Regions from separate parts of the Homo sapiens genome. Here region 1 is linked to region 2. The links come from fine-mapping of genetic effects on gene expression. A gene starts in region 2. The other region holds a variant in brackets. All regions are shown on one strand. Distances are from middle to middle.

Region 1 (10,859 bases), 360 kb after region 2:
TGCTTCTTTCCTTCATCCTTTCCTGCTCTGAAGAACTTTACCGAAGTGGGGCTGAGTTGCACTGACCCATTCTACTATTTTTCCTGGTATATGGGCCAGTATGTTTTTTTTCTTGGCCACCTAAGGTGAAGTATTCCCTCTTTGTGAACCGCCTGACTTCTGAGGGAGTCAGATTGATGCATTTGGTCTGAGAAACTAACATTTTTAGAAGGGAAGCAATTCTAGTTAAAATTTCGAGTACGTAAATACTCACATTTTTTCAGAAAATAATTTAAAACAGAAAAATGCTCACACTACAGAGAGAAAAAATGAATTCAGGAGTCTAGGAAATCCTTTCTGCAAAACCCACAACAGAAGCTGGCATTATCTTGATTGATTGGAAGATGAATGTATCTGAATAAACACAATCTCTGGAATATTACACTGAAGAACTCACAAATGGAAAAGAGTATATAGGCAAACAGGTGACAGTTCAGCATTTTTGATCACCAATTATTTGAAAAACTATGGTAAGGCTTGGGCCAGAGAGGATGAGAAAGTTTAGAAAAATACAGAAACATTAGGATAAATTGTCTTCCTTTAAATGGCTATTAAACTTCAGTTGAGGGAACCAATTCATTAAAACCAAACAAACTTTTAAAAAGGAACAATGTATAGATGATTCAATATCAGGAAAACTTGATTTCTCCTCTTTTCTAAAAGTGATACAAAGCAGATAAATACAGGAGACTATATTTCAAAAATAATATTTCTTCTCTATGTTTTATCTTGGGATTCTTTTTAACTCAGAGGATTTGAGAGAGTCTCATAGATATGATTTGCTGAAATACAAGAGAATTACCACAACTTCTTAGGAACATAGCTAAACAAAAGAACTAGCTGAACAAAGGATTGGATACAGTAGGGCAAAGGAGACATAAAGTGTGATTAGAGCTTACTAAGGCTAATTGAGAAATTAAGACTAAGTGTGATTAGAGCTTACTAAGGCTAATTGAGAAATCAAGACTACCGAAGAGTCTTGATTTTTTTTTATTACTTATGACATTTGTTAAACTCTATATTGTGCTAAACATCTGCCCTCAAGGAGCTTATATTTTGTGAGGAAGATAATAGTCAGACAATAGTTTGTAAGTTGCTAGTAAGCAGGGTCTGTATCCTCAGGACTTAGCATATGCTTAGCATTATATATCTGTTAAGTTAATTAATTGGTCTATAATGTATGGCCAGATAGTCCTCCTGTTCTTCATTACAGTGATGTAGATATGATGCATGGTGCCTAGCTTGGCATGCATTTGATAAATATTTTAATTGTTGGAATGATATTTTTTAATAAAAGGAAAAGCTCAACATAGTTATAAAAGGGCTTTTACTGTAATTTAAGAAGAAAATGTACTATTCTGATAGTTTGTCTTTAAATTCCTGACTGCGATGCTAATTTAAATGGGAATATGATTCTAGAAACACATATAGTCCTGTGTCCTATAAAATCAGTCAAATTTTATTGGAGTATTTGGTTACCTGAATATTTAACTGGAATATTTGGTTACCTGAATATTTAATTGGAATATTTGATTACTTCATTATAAATGCCATGACTCCATAGTGTTTTGTTTTTCTAAAAAAATAAAATTACATTTATACTATTTGAGGGGAAAGCACTTTATTTCCATACTACCTCTAATGAGGTAACAGAATAATGAAAAGACAACTTGGAGTACATAATGGAAAATGTCATTTAAAAAGGTTTCATTTATACAATTTTAAAAATGTAAAAAGTTCATGTCCTTTGCCCACTTTTGATGGGGTTGTTTTTTTCTTGTAAATTTGTTTGAACAGACACTTCTCAAAAGAAGACATTTATGCAGCCAAAAAACACATGAAAAAATGCTCACCATCACTGGCCATCAGAGAAATGCAAATCAAAACCACAATGAGATAACATCTCACACCAGTTAGAATGGCAGTCATTAAAAAGTCAGGAAACAACAGGTGCTGGAGAGGATGTGGAGAAATAGGAACACTTTTACACTGTTGGTGGGACTGTAAACTACTTCAACCATTGTGGAAGTCAGTGTGGTGATTCCTCAGGGATCTAGAACTAGAAATACCATTTGACCCAGCCAACCCATTACTGGGTATATACCCAAAGGACTATAAATCATGCTGCTGTAAAGACACACGCACATGTATGTTTATTGAGGCACTATTCACAATAGCAAAGACTTGGAACCAACCCAAATGTCCAACAATGATAGACTGGATTAAGAAAATGTGGCACATATACACCATGGAATACTATGCAGCCATAAAAAATGATGAGTTCATGTCCTTTGTAGGGACATGGATGAAATTGGAAATCATCATTCTCAGTAAACTATTGCAGGAACAAAAAACCAAACACCGCGTGTTCTCACTCATAGGTGGGAATTGAACAATGAGAACACATGGACACAGGAAGGGGAACATCACACTCTGGGGACCGTTGTGGGGTTTGGGGAGGGATAGCATTAGGAGATATACCTAATGCTAAATGACGAGTTAATGGGTGCAGCACACCAGCATGGCACATGTATACATATGTAAATAACCTGCACATTGTGCACATGTACCCTGAAACTTAAAGTATAATAATAATAAAATTTAAAAAGTAAAAATAAAAATGTAAAAAGTTATACAAATATTAAAACTATATTTATTTATACAATTTAAGCATTTTCTAAAAAATTATTAGTTTATTAGGGTTTTTTTTTTTTTTTTTTTTTTACCCTGCAAGAACATGAGCTTCATATAGGAAGAGATTTTGTTTCATTCACAGCTGAATCTCAGTGCCTTGGGTGGCATCTGGCACAAATAGGCTTCCTTAAAATATTTGTGGATTAAATGAAAGAATTAAATTCAGCTTATTTTCTGCTCTTTTTCAAGCACTAGCTATTAGATGTCAAGGACATGTTCGTGAGCAAAACAAAAATGGTTATTGTCCTCATGGGGCTTACAGTCTAATTGGGAAGGTGAATAATTTAGCCCAGTTCCTGCAATGCAATGTGTTAAGCGAATAGCCAGCATATAGCAGGGAGAACTGATGTAGCCTAGGGGAGAAGATTGGTGTCATTGAAGTTGAGACTAAAATATGAGCAGAATTAAGAAAAAGAGATTATCAGTAGTATTATTATTTTAACCAGAGGGTGGCACAAAGACCAGTGGGCAAGAGAAAGGATGGCAGTTGTAGAGACTAGGAGAGGGGGATAGGAAGAGAGTAAGGATAGAGACCTAGGCAAGGGACAGATCATATAACACTTTATATGCCTCAAGAGGCAGTTGAAAAATGTTTTGAAAGTCAATGAATGGGCACCAGAAGGTTTTAAGCAGAATAATAGAATCACCATCTTAGAAAGATTATTCTGGCTGTAGTATGGATAATGTATTGGTGAGGCATAACACTGGAGGAAGGGAGACCCATGAGATACTACAGTAATTTTCCAGAAATGATAGTGGCCCAGCCTATGATGGTTGCACTGTACTAGGAATGGACAGAAGTAGATGGATATATTAATAAAAAGACATTTTAGGGATATATGTAGGGCTTGGCAATTAATTGCATGTTAAAGGAGAGGACAAATCATGGATGATGCCTTGATTCTTGGAATGGGAAATTCGGTCATTGATTGAAAGAGCATTCCTGATATAATGAATGATTGGGGAAGAGGGGGAAGGAGGATGATGAATTTTGTGGGAGATACTGAGTTTAAGGATCCTATGAGATATAGAGCTGCAGATGTCTGGGAAGGGTTACTTGGTTATGTGAGTCTGAAGCTAAGAATACAAGGTCTTGCTGAGACAGAGAATTGGGGCCTCACTAGTATATTAATGGGACTTGGTGAGACAGATCCAGAAAGTATGTGGAGTGGAAATTGCAGAGGGCCTGAGATAGAGCCTTGAGGACTCAGAAATATGTTGAAGGAGAGGACCCTGCCATTCCAGTTTCTGTAGAAATTGTTTTCACTGTCCATAAGTGGAGCCCCTCTGGCCATGTCTCTATTCTACAACCCTGATCCTCTCCTTTGTGTCTCTTCAGCCACAACTGATTGATTTAACACTGAGCTCTTCACTAAAGCTAAATTATCAGAGTCCTTCCGAGTAATATCTAAAATGGGAGTGAAAGGAGGAAGATTATTCTCTCTCAGGGGGTGGGAGGCAGTAGTTTGAGGCTGTGAGATATGAGGCTGGGAAGTTTCCACCACAAGGGGGAAGCTGACCTGGAAGAATAATATTGACTTGTGCAACAGAATAAAGGTGACAGATGGAAAGAGTTCTGATGGTGATGAGGACCTTAACCAGGCTTTTCTTGTAGATATGTGAGATAGTTCAAGGTTCTCCTAATTATGTTTTCCCATTTTTAGCTAGCAACCTAGAGTCCAGACTAATACATTAAAATAATACTTGCCTCATAGAGCGGTTGGGAAGTTAAAGGAAATAATATGCATAAAGATTATTGCCTGCTACATAGGGAATATAACAGATACTGTTGCTTACTGATTTAACAACTTCCTTTTCTTTGAAGCCAGCACTATCTAATAGAACTTTCTGAGGTGAAGAAGGTTTTTCCATATCTGCATTGTTTAATAGAGCAGCCATTAGTGACATGTGGCTATTGGTCACTTGATGGAATATGGCTAGTGCAAACTGAAAAAATAGAATTTCAAATTGTATTTAACTTTAATTACTTTACACTTAAATGTAAATGTAACTTTGATTTCTTTACATTTAAATGTGGCTAATGACTATCATATTGGACAGCAGAAGTCTAGGGTGATAGACCTATAGAACAACAATTTTTAAAGCCATTTTGGATCGGATTTTCTATCATTTGCAGCTGCAAGCATCCTAACTAATACAATGTATTAAATATAAGTGGAAATGATTTATTTAACATGGCATGAGCATCCCTCATTTTAAGATATTAAAGAATTAAATTTTTGTTTTTATATAGAAATTCTGAATTAAGTCAGAAGGTCAATATTTGCAATACACACAAATTATTAAACTAATTTCTCACAGGTTTCCTAAGTACCAGCTTCTCAGTCAGTGAATATAAAATGTGATTTGATTTATTAAAATTAAAATGATATACAGCTTTTCAACAACATTTCATTCAGATATATTTCTACATAAGTTGCAGAATTATAAAACACACATATTAGAGATTGTCCCTAACTTTATCAAAACAATTCTCCTTTGGGTTCCTTTAACAACATGCCCTCTAGTCTACCAAAATATTATTTTACAGATGGTGGGGGTGTGCTACTTGCAACCCAGATAGACAATAATTCAGCTAAGCATTTTTCTTTGCAGTAAGTGAAAATCTGTTCAAAGTGCTGGAAGTTTTATCAACTGGACCATAAGACCCAAGAGGAACTAAGTGTTTCTGTTATGCTTTCTGTGTTTA[A/C]TAATTCCCAGCCTTGTTAGTAGACACTCAAACACTGCATCCTAGCTGTGGAATCTTGGGTGGGTAACATAGTCTCTGAGAAATTTTGATAAATGCTTATTTTCCGCATTTTTAGATTTTGGTGGTGAGAGTGGTGGTTGCAACCTTTATGCCTGTCTTTCACAAAGGTCACTCAAATTGCTCTGGTTTCTTTTTATGTTACCAAAACGCTCTATAGCTAAACTATTGAGCTTAAATGTCAAACTTGCATTATGTTTAGAAATGGGTACTTATCTCTTTATGCACCTTTCCCTTACACCCCAACGGTGGGCCGACATAGGATATGGTAGAGGAGTTAGTATTCTGACAAATAGGTGATGTCATTCCACCCATGTATCACTTTCCATTAAATCTTTGACCCATATATAACCTTTAGCTGCAGGCTTGTTTGCTTACATCACTGTGATCAAATGGTTAGAATTGTAGATTTTCATTTGGGAAAATGATTATTATTTTTTATTAAGGACATTATTGCTGGTTTGAATTATCCTTTTGTTCATGGTTCATGCACAACAAAGCTTTCCCTAGCCCTTCTGTGGGAGGTGGAAAGATGCTCTGCACCTGTCTCCTACCCAGATCTCTTTCAGAAAGAAAATAGACAGTGCTAGCTAAGCTGTTGGATGGGAGCAATATTCAGTTCTTTGCCAACAGAGATCCTAGACTCCAGATATGCCAATTCAGCAAACCACAGGGAGATTATCTAAAACTGAAAAGGGGCTCAAGAATCCATCAGAATATGAGATAATTTAAATAAAATTTAAATCCTACTGGCCAACAGAGAACCAGAGGACATTAGAGAAGGAAGGAAACTTGGAGGTCATCCTGTTCGATATTTTGCTGAGTGTCACCTGTCAGGCTGATGTAAAATGAGGACAGGGAGTACATAGAAACATTTCGGTTTCTCTGATTCAGTAGTACTCTTGAAGGCCTTTATTGGTGGTGCAAAATGAGGCTTTCTCATTGACTCTAAATAGGCTTATTAGCAGCACGCAGAAGGATTTCCACTGTGATCTTTTCTTTGTCCCTAGTCAGAGTGAAGGCATAGGTCTGAAGCAGGCTGATAGCTTTGGAAGTGAAAAGTACTGGCAGGCTGAGGGCACAGAATGGGCTGGCTGCCAGTGTTGGGTTCAGCACCCTGAGGAGTGTCATTTGTCAGAGCCACTTTTATGAAACAGAAGCCCTCTTTTGTGTATTTGTACCTGTGAAAGGGAGCAGTGGTATAGCTGATCCAAAGTAGCAGAAAAACAAATAATTCATATTGACTTAGGATGCTCACCTACCCCCTCTTTTGCAGGAGTGTTAGTTTGCATGTCAATACATGGACAGCCTCCTTGGATTCTGGCATGATGCTTTCCATAGGGGTTTCATTAATTGGTGCAAAAGTTTATTTCAGTAGAGTCCAGGAAACTGTTAGCTTTTTGTTCTCTGCCTAATGACAGAAAATGTCCCTGTGACTGATTTCTTTGTGGGACCAGTCTGCATCATTCCTAAGACTGACACAAAGCCCCGCTTGAGTGTGTGGGATGAACGGCATGACTCACACGTTCCCCTGGAGAACTGCAGGTTTGATTAAATGTTTAAATGACCTTTTAGGACAGATGATTATGAGGATGGGCAAACAATTTGTTCTTTCAATTCTTAATAACTTCAGTGTGTATTGCGAGGGGGAGGTATATGTAGACAGTTTGGAGGAGTGTGAACAAGAGACTTGGGTAATCACTGGAGATAAGGGTGATGATGATGATAATTTGATATAAATAAGCAGAGAGTAAGATTTGTCAAAAAGGGGCAAACTCATTGCTGTTCTCAATATCTCCCTTCTTTCACTTCAAGCACAGACACTCACAACATGTTCTGTTTCTGATAACTTCCTAAGCACACAGGAACTCCAGGATTTCTCAAGGACCACAGCCCTGTGGCCAAAAATCTTTTTCCTTGACTGCTCTCTGGGCAGCTCAGTAGTATCTTTAACATGGCAAATATAAAGATAGTAGATTCACTACAAAGACACCTCGAGAAAAATACTGCCTGCATTTGTAAACCATACACAGTCTTATTATTCAATTTGTCTTTATGGAAGCTATCAGTTAGCTACACGTTTCCTTTCCTATGTCTGATGTACCTATCTCTAGTTGATTCTTTCTCTCTAACTCTACTTCTTGAAACACTCTCTGCTGGTTTGATTTTCAGGTGCATTCATCCTCTTTTCAGATTCCAGAATGAAAACTTCCTTTTTGAGACACCCAGATAGATTACCTCTTCCTTAGTCCACCTGGCCCTTATCCACGTCCCTTGAATGAGTTTTCTTTGTCTGGACACATTTCTGAAGTAATACTTCTCTGCACTCCCAAAATACAGCTCTTCCTTCTTTCGGCCTTTTGCTGTGTTCTATTACATTATTTCATTGCCACTCAGAATAAGCACTAGATAGACATCTAAGGTTTAACTTTACATTTTATATATTTTATTATATCAAAAACTGGTCACATATAAACTGTAGTACTTGGGAATTGAGGGTATTTCTTGAGTATTACAAGAAAGTATTACTTTCTTGAGAAGATATTACTCAAAAATATATACATTTTGGATAAAGAAATTTTGACAGTATAAGATGAATTAGCAATGATGTTTTTCAGAAAACACGTAGGCAGTAACTTCATTTATATGACCATGTTATTAATCTGTAGGCATTAATGGATTTATGTAGCCTGTTCAGAAATTAATGAAGCCTGTTTTCTATGGATTTTGTTATTAGCTCCTTCCCTCTTCTTTTGTCTTCTTGGCATCACTGTTGACATCACTGATGGGAATCCCACTACTGCAGCCATTGCAAGTGTTTTTGGTGATTATTGTTCACTTAGGCACCTTTGTGCACTAGATCTCTGATCAAATTATTTTGAAATTTTAATATGAAATACATAGGAGAAAAAATTGAAAATGTGTAGCAGTAGGAAAGCTTTTCTTTGTTAAAAAAGTGTAATTTAATAGAGTAAGAGGTGTGAAATATGTCAGGAATTTTGCTAACATGAAATTTCATCATTTGTCCAGTTGTGTACTTAATGGATTCATCTTAAGTATACCGTAATTCCTGGCAATAATGTGGGGAAGCTCAGATTTACTTTTCAGTGCATGTTAGTATGTAAAATGACCCCTATCTTCAATATCTCTATGTTTTAACACCTGCTTTGTTTTTACAATAGAGGCCCTTGTTTGGAACAAAGCCACTTAAGCTGAACGTCATTGTACCTGCACAGTTACCTGGGTTATCTGTGGTTGTGATGAAAATTACACCACCATAATCACCCCAGGCTACTTACAAGGCACCTTCATAGAAATTATACTGTGCCAAGTGCCACAAAGAATATCAAAATGCAGCCCCTGCTTCAGGCGCTTATGTTTCCAAGGGGAAAAAAACTGGCCTTTGGATTTAGATAAGAAACTTTATTGTGATTACAAATTGGATTTCCTGTTTTTATTTCAGGAAAGTTATATTTGAAGGTAGAAGATAGCTAGAATTGCCATTTATCTCACCCCTGGAGGGTTTGAAACCATTCTTGAATGAGTAAATGTATTCAAAAATTTAAAATTAAATCAGATTTGTTATATGGAATCATTTAAACCTAATTTCTTAATTAAAGACATTTTAAGTTCACTTTCTGTTCCTTAGGTGTAAACATCTCATGCTACAAAAAACAAGAATAGATTCCACTGCTGGGGTGAAAAGCCACGACTTTTCTTCCTGTGTTCTGTTTCCCAGGCCTATCAAAGATATTTAAGTACTGAGTTAGGTCTGGCTAGGGAACTCTCCTGACTGCTTTAGGGGCACAGATGATAGGGAAGAAAAGAGTAGACTGTGGGGGTTAGTCTTGGAATGATTTCAGTACTCCCCTTTGATGGTGATAGCTGCTTCCTGTTAGGAACTTCTGTTGGAAGCATACTTCTTACCTGAAGAAAGTTCTGGGTTGAGACAGTTCTACCTTGACTTATTTACCAAGGCTTCTAAACCATATAGCACATCACTATGAATACACTCAGGGTGGGGGCAATGGATCCTACCCAGATCCCTGTAAAGCCAGCGTGGTTCTGCAACCATCATTCATGGATAAGGACCAAGACTGAGCTGCTCTGGTTGAAGAAGCTGTTGGATGATATGGGGTTTGTGCCAGAGTGTGGTGAATTCATTTTCCAAGATATGCTGGGCTCACTCTCAGCAAGGCCAGCTGAAAGCTGAGTCTGCTTTGGATGCAGAGGTATGTAGTCAGTGGCTGTGCACAGGACAGGACTTTGGGATGTACAGAGGGATATACTATCCTTACAAATACTTCCTTCAGCTGTTTGCTGATGAGCAAGATTCCAGGAATAGGATACAAGGCCCCTAACTTGTCTTAACTCTCTGATTAGGTCAGATCTCCCTACTGTATGCCCATAGTGCACCATACTCATTTTAGCTTTTATTACAGTTACAGTTGTACATTTATTTGTGGGGTTGTTTGATGCATATTTATCTCTTATTAAATTGTAAGCTCCATGAAGATAAGGAGCATATCTTTTTGCTTATCTTTGTGGCCACTGTGCCTGTCACATAGAAGGCACTGGATAATCCTTTGTTAAATGAATAACTAGACCTAAAAAATACTTCAAGGTAGGTGATGCAGTCATTAAGTTCACACTACAATGAAAGACAGTTCTTCCCAACAGGACATTATATGTTTTTTCTGCTATCATTTCTATTTGCTAAATTGACTTTGAGTTTGAGAAATTGGGCTATGATGCAATATGTGCATAAAATCTTCAACAAATACTGTGTTCCATTTTTTTAAAGCAAGGATAAGGATGAAAAAAATAAAAAGATGAAAGAGTTTATTTAAGCTACTGATATCCATTTGTTGGTTGAAAAAATATGTGGCTGTTTGCATTTTGTTTAGCCACAGAACTCCCATATAAACATTTCTATCTTTGACAAAGGTTTATGCAATTGATCTGGCTGCTCATTTTTCCCCCGTGATTTCCTTTTTTTAATTCACAGGTGAATGACATTTAGTTCTCGGTTGTGGAAAATGCTCTTAATGCCTCCATCTTTTAAGGAGATGTTCCTATAGCTCAGTTACTTTGAATATAGTTTTTTGTTTTGTTTTTAATTTATGGCATCAGCAAATGATTTACACCATAGTGTTAACCAGTGCTCATGAGGATGCTGATTTTAGCAGAATCCTAGGGAACTAATAGAAAAAAATCACAGCTAATTTTAGTATTTGTAGGGCCTTATGACAGATAGATCTGAATACTATTATTCACCCTTAATAACTTCTTGCTAAATTATCTGTTTTGTCTCCTGTCTAATTTTATTTCTTTCATGAATACACATATTTTATACATC
Region 2 (10,859 bases):
CTTCTCAGTGTTAAACCCCATCTAAAGGGAGAGTGGAGTAAAAGAGAGAAAAGAGAGCTTCTGTGGCCATGGACAGATATGAGCATATAGGCACCCCTTCCCTGGGCTCCTCATTTCTCAGGTCTGCCTCCTTAGGCATTGCAAGCAAGTATTCATATATTTAAATGTGCTGCCTGCTGGCTGCCTGTGAGGAGAATGATTTCCTGAATGTAGTACATTTTAAATTTTAGTGAACGTCATTTCCTGGAACGTTTGCAAAACAGGCAGCTTCCCAGGCCCCATCCCAGCAAGTCTGATTCAAACAGCTCTGGGATAGGGCCCAGAAATCTGTGCTTACAATCAGCACCCCTGTGATTTTGAGGCAGGTGGTCCTTGCAACACACATAGAGAGGCACTGCCTTGATTAGTACAAGTTTTATGAGGTTTGCCTAAACAGGTGTTGCAGAGGCTAACTGTGACCTGCCCTTATTGTCTTGTCCTTGACCCCTGATTACATATCACCTGCCTACTAACTGCCAGCCCCTGCATTTTTTTTCCAGAGGTCTTTACATGATCTCTGGAGGCTGCTTTGCCATCCATGTGATAGGCTAGAATTGCCAGAGAATAAACATCATCTGGTAGCAGTTCTTAACTAACATCTTATAAGTGTTGGTGTATAGATACCCCAGCTCCCTCATCCCTCAGTTGGACCCACTCTCTGCTGTGTGTTTTACACTGACTTCCAGAGTTCCCCACTGGGATTAGGTACCAGGTGCCTACAGTGATACCTAGCTTGATAATGCACCCTTTATTGGCTCACTTCCCCACCTGAGTACTGGGATTCCCTTCACCTCTTAAACTACCTGCTCTTGAATCCTTGTTTCAGGTTGTGCTTCTAGGGGAACCCAAATGAAGCCAGTAGAGATGCCCATATACCATATGTCAGAAATTCTTAAAGAATCTTTCCCATGACTCCTGTATGCAGGTATGAGTTGACTGTGGAAGTGCAGAACACACTCATTCATGACATTGGTGTCATGAATCTCATTGGCTCTATCTGACTGTCAGTCTAACATGTCTGATCTTGCTTCTAGCAGCCAGTGTCTAATAAACTGAGCAAAACCCACATGGTACACTCACTGCCATGTGCAGATGGTCTAGCAAGAAAAATATTGTCTTCGTTTCCAAAAGAAACAAATCCCATTCCCACTTTCCCCTGTCAGCTTTGCTCCATGTGGGAGCATCATGCTGTCGATATTTCTCTTGGGTGAGTAGCCTGCAAAGGTTCTCAGCCTTAATGATTACTCCAAAGCAGGAATTGTGGCATAAATCTCCATGTGTGGAATATGTATCACAGCTTGAGTTAAATGGACCCCAAACATATGGCATTGTTTTTTGCATTTTCTAACACATGGGCAGTTTCTCACATTTTAAATCAACTGAAAATGAGAAGATTATAGGCAAATCTTCCTGGAGGATTAACTACTAGGAAATATACTTGGTTTGAATAAACATTTGGGGTGGGATGGAGGATGAGGTCAGACACTTTCCAAAGACACAGTGTGTATTGCAGAGGGTGGGATCCCAAGGGGAGGCAAGGTGGATGACTCTAGAATAAGCTGCATGTCTGGACGGCCTGGTCTTCAGACACTCTCCCCTGACTCAGATTGCAGCAATGAGCAAGCAGCATCATGGTGTTTGGCCCTGACGAATAGAGGTTGTACAGCCAATAACTTTTTCCTGTGAATGTTACTGATAAGGACCAGTCCCTCCTGGAGACAATCTTTCTTCCTGTGTCCCAGTGTTGCTATCAGTCTGGGCGAATTATAACCTGTACATGGGCAAATTATAACCTGTACAGAAGGCTGTGTCACTTGCTCAGGGGCTACTAGATAAAGCCATTGGAAACACTGAAGAATATATAGAAGGGCTCTATTTCTTATTGACCAGATTCCATGTAGGATTTGAGTGATGGTTCTATTTTGAGTATCAAGAGTTAAAGATGATGCAAAACGAAGCATCGGACTTGCACTTTCCTTAGGAGAGATCAAGTCTAGTTTTCTCGCAGAAGGCTGCACCAAAAAGGGCAGCGATGTGCCTGTAAGACATCAGTTCTCTGCAGGTAATGATCAATAGGGAAAGGAGAAAGGCAGCTCATTAGGCATTTCTTCCCCAAGAGGCTCACTCGGCCTCCTTAGGCTTCCAAAGCCACAGCCAGCCTTATTGCCCTTATTATTAAAATGGGCCCACTAGAGCACCAGGCTGCTGCCCTCTTGGCTCATGCCAGGCAACGACCCAACTGGCCCTGCAGCTGGCCTCTAGCCTACCCTGAAGACGATGTGTGGTCAGCAGTTGTCGATGCCCAACGTATTTGCGGGCCTCCTCTGCCTTTCCCCTCCGTCGTGTCTCTTTTCCCCTCAAATTTATCAATGCACACGTAGTAAATGGTCTAAAACGGACTTATTCATACCTCTACGTTATCTGTGATATCATTGCTCAGACCGGGATCATGGGTCTGGAGTTTGGGGTGGAGTGGGCTTCCTGCTATAGAAATCAGGCCACTGCACTTACTTTACACTTCTGGGGGAGGAGGGATCTCTTCCAGTCCCTAAGAAAAGAAAATCTTTAAAGCGTCTTACACGCAGGCGTGCAACCAGGAAGTCCACCCAGCCCCATCTCCGCATAAATTAGGAGCTCTTCCCTCTTCCCACCTTCCTTGTCCCAAGTGGCACCGGACACTGATCACCCTCTTCAGAGCTGCACTAGACATTCACAGGGAATTGAGGTTCCCTATGCAGAAAGGTTTTCAGACAGAGGACCCAGCCCATTTTCTCTCTCCAAATCCTCCTCCCTCCCTCTTTTGTGGTTGCAGCTATAAAATAATGATTCAACAATCAAAGAGCCTCTCATGAGATGGGAGAAGGAAGGGAACGAAAGGGGAAGAGGTGCCCTGGGCTGAAAACCTGTAGATTTTTTCTAAGTGACAAAGGGCAAGGGTCCTTTTTTGAAATTAGGAGAGAGACAGCTGTTTCCTCAATCGAAACTTCGCACATTACAACCAGCCTTGGGAAAAGCCAACACCACCAGGGAGGAAGTGCTATGGGGTTTTGAAGCCAGACACTGATTTCTGGCTGTAATACTTTCCAGCCGTGTCTCTAAGCCTCGGCTTCTGCCTCCATCTGTAGAGTGGGCTTAATAATTTTGACCATCTCACAGAGTTGATGTGAAAATTAAAATAACCCGAACAGAACAGGCGATATATACAGGAATTAATGAAAGATTCCTGACATAATGCTTATAAGTTCATGATGCTTAGGAAGATAAAATTCATTGTAGAGATGCCGAACGGGGGTCTAGAGCTTGCCTTTTCGGGGTCTCTCCCGTCCTTCTCCATCCTCCTTATCTCCTGGGCTGCCCCCTCTCCCCCCGCGCCCCGCTCTCCCTGGCTCGCCCGGGCCTAGGGCGCCGCCTGCAGTTGCGCGCGGCCGCCTCTAGATGGAACTTTCTCACCAACGCAAGGCCCGGCCGGAGCAGCTACCCGGGAGCTGGGCGGCGAGGGGCTACTTTCTCTCATTCCGGCGGGTGCAGGATCGGGGGGCCTGGGCAGTAACTAGTGGGGAGGAGCGCTGGACTGTGCACGTCGAGCCCGGCAGGTTTCCGCATGCGGCATGCGAAGGGAATCCCGAGGTTTCCCTGCAGAACCCGAGCACGGCTCCCCCGGAGTTTCCTGCCCCGCGTCTGCGGCTCCTTGAATCATCTCAATAAAATGACCGTCCCGGTAGCCACCCATGCCCCTTCCTGCGCAGTGCCCGCAGCGGACCGCGCTGTGTGGTACCTCGAGCCCTGGGGACTCTGTTGCACGCGTCCCTCAGACCCTCGGGGGCGGGGAGTGGGGAGACAATCGCCAGAGCCGCGGGGCGGGACAAATGGCGGAACCGCCGCGCGGCGCCAGGCAAACTTTGCAAGGGAACCGCGCGGCTTGCCGGCTCTACTTTAAGCATTCCCGAAAAGAAAGCATGTGGCGGGACACTTGTCATCTACCATGTGTTATTCTCGGTGACGCTTTCTGGAGCTGTGTTCACCGGGGACCCGGGCTCGCGGGTGCTGCCCGCTGTGCTCGGGCGGGCGTCGCGCCTCCCCGCGCCGGTCCCGGGCTCGCCAGGCAGCCGGAGCCGCTGGGCTCCTCCACAACCATATTCCTTCTTCTACCGCTCCCGCTTCTTCCCACCCTCTCACTCTGTAGTTGGGTCCTCCCCTTTTTCTTGGGGGCGGGGAAGGGGGGATGATTTTTAAAAATCAGAACTATTGACATTTCTGGTCTCCTCGTCGCTTCAGGCTGAAGAGCGGAGGGGGATCCGCGGGCCGAGGGTCCCCCTCCCTGCCCGCGCCAGGGCCGCTGGGTGACACCGAAATCCAGAGGCTCCCGCCCCTCGGGGGTTCCTCCTCCCGCTTCCCGAGGTGACTGGTTGGCGCGAAGCGATTGGCGATCCCGGGCGCGATCCTGGCCGCGGCTCCCCGCGCCGCGCCGGGTGAATGGCCGCGGGCGGAGGATCGGGAGGCGCCGGGCGCAGACCAATCGCGGCCGCCGGTGGGAGTATTTGTTATTCACATGGAAGAGACTTGGCGCCTGCTAGGCCAGCTCAGCCCCCTCAGCCCAGAGATCAGCCACAAGTGCGGCCGCTGTGCTCGCCTCACGCGGCGGCGGCGGCGGCGGCGGCGGCGCTGACATGGAGCTGCGGGCCCCCGGCGGGCTTCCTCACCGCGCCCTCTGCGGGGAGCAGGGTAAGACTCGCCGCCCGGCAGCAGAAAGCGGCTCCGAGGAAAGCAAGTGCCGAACCACGGGACAAAAAGCCCCTGGCCCCCAAACTTCCCCAAAACGCCCTGCTTGTTGGAAAAGGAGAATCCCCCCGTTTTATTCCCCTTTCCGTTTTCTTCTCTAAAACCTTTCAGCGGACAGCCAGGTGCACCATTCCTTCTCATATCACTCTAGTGATTTGTTTTTCCTGAGCACAAGTAGATGGCCCTGCATGTCCGTAGTCTGTGAGAGAAATAGCGGGCGGAGGTGACGGGAATGGGGGGAGAAGGAGAGTGGGCACCAGGGGGCGAGGGGCTGGCCGGGCATTGGAGCTTGATTGGGTGTCTGTTGATTTTACGTTGCAAAGAACAAGGCAGCCACCCCTCTTGTCTGCCCATGATTACATTACAGTAAAGAGGTTCAGAAAAGAGGGAGACTTTACCCGGAACTCCCAAGGCTTGGAGATGTGATCCCCCAAAAGTTTAGTCGGCGAATGGGAGACTGAAGGGTGACGGGAAGGGGGCAGGCGCGCTCGGCGCTCTGACTGGGCGTGCGGCGGCAGGATTTTAAAGCGCTCTGCCTCGGATCGTCTGCCCTGGGTGACCTCCCGGACCTGCCCTGGTGGAATCCGGACTTGCCCCGCCGAGATGACGAGGTACCTTCGTTTCGCGAACCTAACAGGAGGGATTTCTGAAGTTAGCGGCTTCCGGGATGAGTCGGGGTAACCCCCGCCCTCTGAGCGTGGGCTGGATGGATGTCTAACCAGGATCTAGGGAGGATGGGGGTCGCGGGGGAAGCCGGGCGCTTCGGGGTCCTCGACACCCACATCCCCGCACGGCGCACGCTCTGCCTCGAGTTTGCGTTCTCCGAGTTAGCACGGCGAGCTTGGGATTTCCGTGCCCCTCTTTTGTGGCTTTCGAGAAACGCCGGAGTTCCGTGTCCTGCTGGGGGTTGGGGGGATGGAGAAAAGGTCTCGGGGATCTTGTTTAAAAAGCAAAGGCAAACGCACCCCAACAGCTCCTCGGTAGCTCCCGCGGCTGGCGCGGCCCCAGTTTCGGGCGGCCCCGCGCGGGGCGTGGGCGCGGGCGCTCGGGCGGCCAGGTGCGGCGGGGGCGGAGGCTGCATCCCCAGCGCGCCGGAATGCCCCGGGGCGCGGGAAAGGCAAAAGCAGCCTGGCGCTCTCCCCACGGCCCCAGTCTCTATCTACCCAGAACCCGGCTTCAACAGCCCAAGGAACTGAGAAGAAAAAGGAACCTGCGCTGGGAAACAGGGGCTCCTGGCGGGCTGAGTGGTCGCTGTTATGGTAGAGATAGAAACGGAGAGGTAGAGATGGACCGCTCAGCCATGCCAAGCGCGAAGCCCATCCGCCCAGCCAGAAAGCTCGGATATCCCTTGAGCTTCGTACAGTTGGTGAAAAAATAACAGAATCACCAAAAAAGAAAAAAAAATTCCCTTCGTCTGACACGCGCTCCCTTGGTGCAAATGAAATGCGGAGGGACACGCGAGTCACCCAGTTGCGCAAAACCGCACCCCCGCGGTTCCCTGGGGAATTACTTCCCCCGTGGCCCAAACTGTGAAGCCTGGTGTCAGAGAGTGTCTGCGCACCCAAGATAGCGGGGGTGAAAACAGACCCCCTCGCCGGTTGCAGAAACCCTTAAGTCCCCTAAGCAAGTCCCACCCCGGGAGGGAGTGCCTTATTTGCCATTTGGGGGATCCTTTCCCACAAACCTGAAGGTGCGGGAGTCTCTGGAACACCCAAGAATACACTAGAGTCTGGGCTACTACCGCGATTGAATACAAATCCTGCCAACTGACAGAACTGGAAAACAGGGTTGGTGGTGGAGATACAAGAAAAATCATGAACGGGAGAAAAGCATTCCTATGGTAGCTTGTATTTTGCTTGAAAGAAAAATAGAGAAAAAGAGCCACCAGCAGGTAGATCGTGGATAAACAGCTTATTGCACTTGCCTGTAATTTCCACTTTCCGTTATGAAATTGTTTGTCAATAATTGCAAATGGCTACAGAAACCACTTTAGTTTACCTTGGTCACTTGCTTGTGAATAATACCGTGAAAGATCTCTGTAGGAGGCAGAATCAGCTGTGTGCAATTCATTCTCTGGTTCTTGAAAACGTGTGGCTTGATAATTTTGAAAAGAAAAGCTTCCTCCGTCAGGGAAAATGAACCAAGGTTTTTTAAAATGCAATTTTTCCATTTTAGAGTCAACTACAGGTTGTACCATGTCTAAGATAGAGAATTCTTGCTTTTGAATAAGGGATGTGGGGAGAAATAGATGACGGGAGGCTTTGTAGGAGACAATTGACCCGGAATAAAGAAGAAGATACTGAGAACACAGCTGTATACTGTTCCTTAGGCTCAATTTGTTCTGTTTGGATTGTGCTAGCTAGTTCTGCCCTGTTATGCACCGTTCGAAAGTTATGGCTGCTTGAATAATTCTAAAAACATCTACATCCAAAAGGAATAGAGAAAAGGAAGAGCTGAGCTCCAGTGAGTGCAGGAGAAAGTTAGAGGTCTGGAGAGATGTGCTCTTTTCAAAGTTGGCTGAGCAGGTTGAAGCTGCTGCGGGGCTTGTTTAATTGGTATTTATGCAGCAAATAACCCGTCTGACATTCACATTGGCAATTGCGTGCCAATCTTTGTGTATGAATGTTCCATTGTCTTCAGGGCACGATGTACAGCACACTACACACATGTTTTTTTCCTTCCAAGTTTCCTTCCTACCACCTTTCTCAGGTAGTTAGAATGCCCATCATAAAGATGACCTTGCTTTAGTTGGGGGGAGTGGAGTTGCTCTGTCCCAGTGTCTTAAAAGAAGATGCTGCTTGAATTTCTCTCTTCCTGGACCCACAGCCAAGACCTGGCCACATCTCCATGTCTGTCAAGTTGGCTGGCTTGCGGAGGTTCAGGAAACTTGCTGTTTTCTTGATAGACTCTGACTGGGCATCCCCAGACTCACAAATGTGGTTCATTCAATAGGGACGGCCACTTCATGTTGTTCCCAGGAGAGGCTATGAGCTGAGAGTTGGCTGGCTTATTGTTTCCATTTCAAGAGAGGGTTTTCTTTCTGCTAGGAATTGGAATTTAGATTTGGGCTTTCTCTCTTTTTTCTTTGATTTTCATTTCTACTTGGTAATTTGACAAATTGCGACAAACTCACCCACTCACTGGGAGGGACGCTGAGCATAATATTGTCTCATCCCAGGACACCCTTTCTCAGTGGTGGGCAATGCTGTTGGAATGATTTGAGAGGTACTGTTGAGACGCTCCTGACTCCTAGCTCTCTGCTCTGGCTTGTTGCATTGCTAGCCTTAACCATTATTAATGGTGATATTTCTTTGGTAAATAAATTATGGCTCTCCTAGGAATCATTTTGAGAATGCAGATGTTCCATTTGGGGATGACAGTAATGCATCTTCAGGCTTTGATACCTGCTAATGAATCCACTCACTCCCTGGGGAGGGCCAAGGTAATGAAAGAACAAAGGCACTGAGGGAAGGAAGAGACCTAGTTCTGGGGAGGTCAGCGCAGGGCAGGGCAGGGCAGGAGGTGAACAGAAGTAGGAATATCTAGGAGAGCCCTCAGAGGAGTATAGATTGTTGGACACATGTGTTGCCAATTTCATACTTTTCCAGGCAGGGTTATGCCTAAAGCTAGAAAGCTGCTGGCTATTTATTGGCTGACTTTTCCAGTGGTCATGACCCAGCGGTAGAAGCATTATATTGTACCTACAACTTAGGAAGGTTTCCGGTTGTCTTGTTTTCACAACAGGAGATTATCTTGTCACCACTTTCTTCAGAATAGCGATTTAGATGCTCAGTGTCCATGACCTTTAGTTTTCCAGGTCAGGCATGGTAGTTCCATTGACTTCTTCTTGCGTCCTTTCCAGTTTTCCTTCAAGCTCTGTGCTCTCCATATAGGCTTGCCAGGGTTGACTTTTTTTGGACCTGTGACCGTTGTTAAGGTCTGACTAGACCCAAGCGTGATGAGAAAGTGGTTTTCTTAGATCTTCTAAGTACAATACACCAGTAACATATTTTAGTTCTAGGACAGATTGTTAGACTAATAGTATCCCTGTGCATTCTTATAGCACTTGGCAGTTTATAAAGTACTTTGACACACATTATATTGTTGGATTTCACAAACTGGGAGATGGGGGAAAATCATTCCCCATTTTAGAAACCAAGAAACTGAGATCTGGTTAAGTGACTTGCCCAGTGCTATACAGTGAGTACTGGGGGAAGTAAGACTAGAATCAGTGTCTCCTAGGACTCTAGAACATCTCACTCCCAGTCCTCATTATCAAATCAGGGTTAGTTTGAGATCCAGCATGGCCTCCTGCCCCCATGGGGCATGGAGTAAGGGAAGGAACATAATGGCAGTCCTGCATTTGAATTCTCGCCTGAGACTTTAGACACAGTCATATAATCTTTCTGTTTTCAGGTTCCTTAGATCCTGAATGGAGGCTGTGATACCATCCTCATAGTTGTATTTTAGAGGGAAATGAAATAATGTGTCTGCAGCTCCAGGCACACTGCAGGCAATCAGTAAGTGTTGATGTCACCCACTTTCTCTCTTCTTATCTGATACATATTATAAAAAGTAGCTTCTCATTACTTTAAATATGGTCTTTTTGTGCAATAGCTGTGTTATTGGAAAAATAAAGGCACAAATTGAATTCTCCTAAATCAGATTTTTTTTTAAATGCCTGGGATTTAGCTATTTAAAGGAAACCTGTGGTGAATTCTTCTGTAATGCAAATAATTACTTTCCAATTTATCTGTTTAGTAAGTCGAGCTTCTCCTGTATCAGATTTTTTAAAATATGAGGCTGGCTTGTGTAGAAGAGCTTTCACAATCCTCTCACTGATGAAAAAAAGTCACTCAACTTGCAAACAAAATCAGTTATTGTGTTCAGTTGGCAAAGCCTTGCTCTGATGTTTGAGCATAATCTCATATTCCCTTATTATTAAGTAATAGAATCTCAGAATAGGAAGCTGGAAGACACCTTAGAGATCACGTGGTCCATCTCACTCGTTTCACAGATGAGGAAATGGAAGCACATAGGGGTGAGGGGACATGTTCAGTGTTACCAGCCAGTGACTGTCAGACAAAGATCCGATTCCAAGCGTCTGTTGCCAAGGGAGAGCTCTGTCTGCCCCATCCTCACTCTGCCCCACCAAGAATCCATAGACATGCACACATATTGCAGCATGGGAGATGATACAGAAATACGATGCATTTTCAAAACAACCAAAAGAGCTGCAAGTGTGAGCAGTCATATGAATTGATGAGAATATTCAGCTTAACCTTTTTGTTAAAGAGCTGAATGGAATGCAGCATAGGAATGCTGCTTTGGCCTTTTTATGAGAAAAAAATTACAATTCTTGGATAATGGTATTCCTCAGTGAGGATTTTACCCTATCATATTTTAATCATACCTGCTAAATGCCCAAGGAAGATGTGATGGCAGACCCAGAGAGACCCTGCATGCGTTGGTGGGTGTGTTCCACCTGACATCACCTTGACATCAACCTGGCCAGGAGACCTCATTTGGAGCAGAAGTGTTTGGACAAACCGCATTGGATCTTCTCAGCCCTTTGAGAGATTCAGAAATCACCTCCCTGGAAATGCCCCCAGATTGTCCCTTCCTAATTAATATGTTAGTGTTCTTCCAGAGCTAAGCATTGAAGATGTGCACCTTTCTGAAAGATTGCAGTGGAGGGGCAGGGCCATTCCCTTTCCTTGTGCTGCCACAGTGAGTCCCTGCAGCACTGGGGTCTTTCTCCAAGGACAGGACCCACCTTCTGGGACAGATGACTTTGGTGGCACTGCCACTTATCAGCTCACGCTCTCAGGGGTTGGGGCCATATTCAATCCCTCTGAGCCTTCTTTTCTCATTTATACAAGAGCTAATGCCTGGTGTATGAAAATTTATGGAGATACTGTGTTAGATACTTGACACTGGTACAGAGAAGGTGTGTAGAAAATAAAGCAGAATTCTGGGCTCTGGCCAGTGAGGAGGTATCCTTCTGGCCTTTTAGGAAACAGAGCACATTTAGGGGGATA

Alleles and levels. Alleles are on the strand shown, and positions count from the first base shown. SD is a standard deviation of normalised expression in the study named.
For the expression in lung of the gene that starts at base 4,617 in region 2, allele A in region 1 goes with a lower level than allele C (small effect, 0.22 SD a copy in GTEx).

Evidence for each region. PIP is the estimated chance that this variant, and not a neighbour inherited with it, causes the effect.
Region 1: its variant is fine-mapped to the expression of GRM8 in lung (TOPMed, PIP 0.92).

Annotation. Positions count from the first base shown.
Region 1 is chr7:126,883,926-126,894,784 of GRCh38, reverse strand. The region is part of intron 6 of GRM8 (glutamate metabotropic receptor 8); the gene reads left to right. Among named protein-coding and RNA genes, the nearest start is that of MIR592, 170 kb to the left of the region's middle. The variant A/C (reference allele first, on the strand shown) is at 5,444.
Region 2 is chr7:127,246,699-127,257,557 of GRCh38, reverse strand. It overlaps GRM8 (glutamate metabotropic receptor 8), which reads left to right and starts at 4,617. Exons shown (of 11, transcript NM_000845.3): 1 at 4,617-4,761. RefSeq lists a silencer at 3,350-3,409 and an enhancer at 3,530-3,779.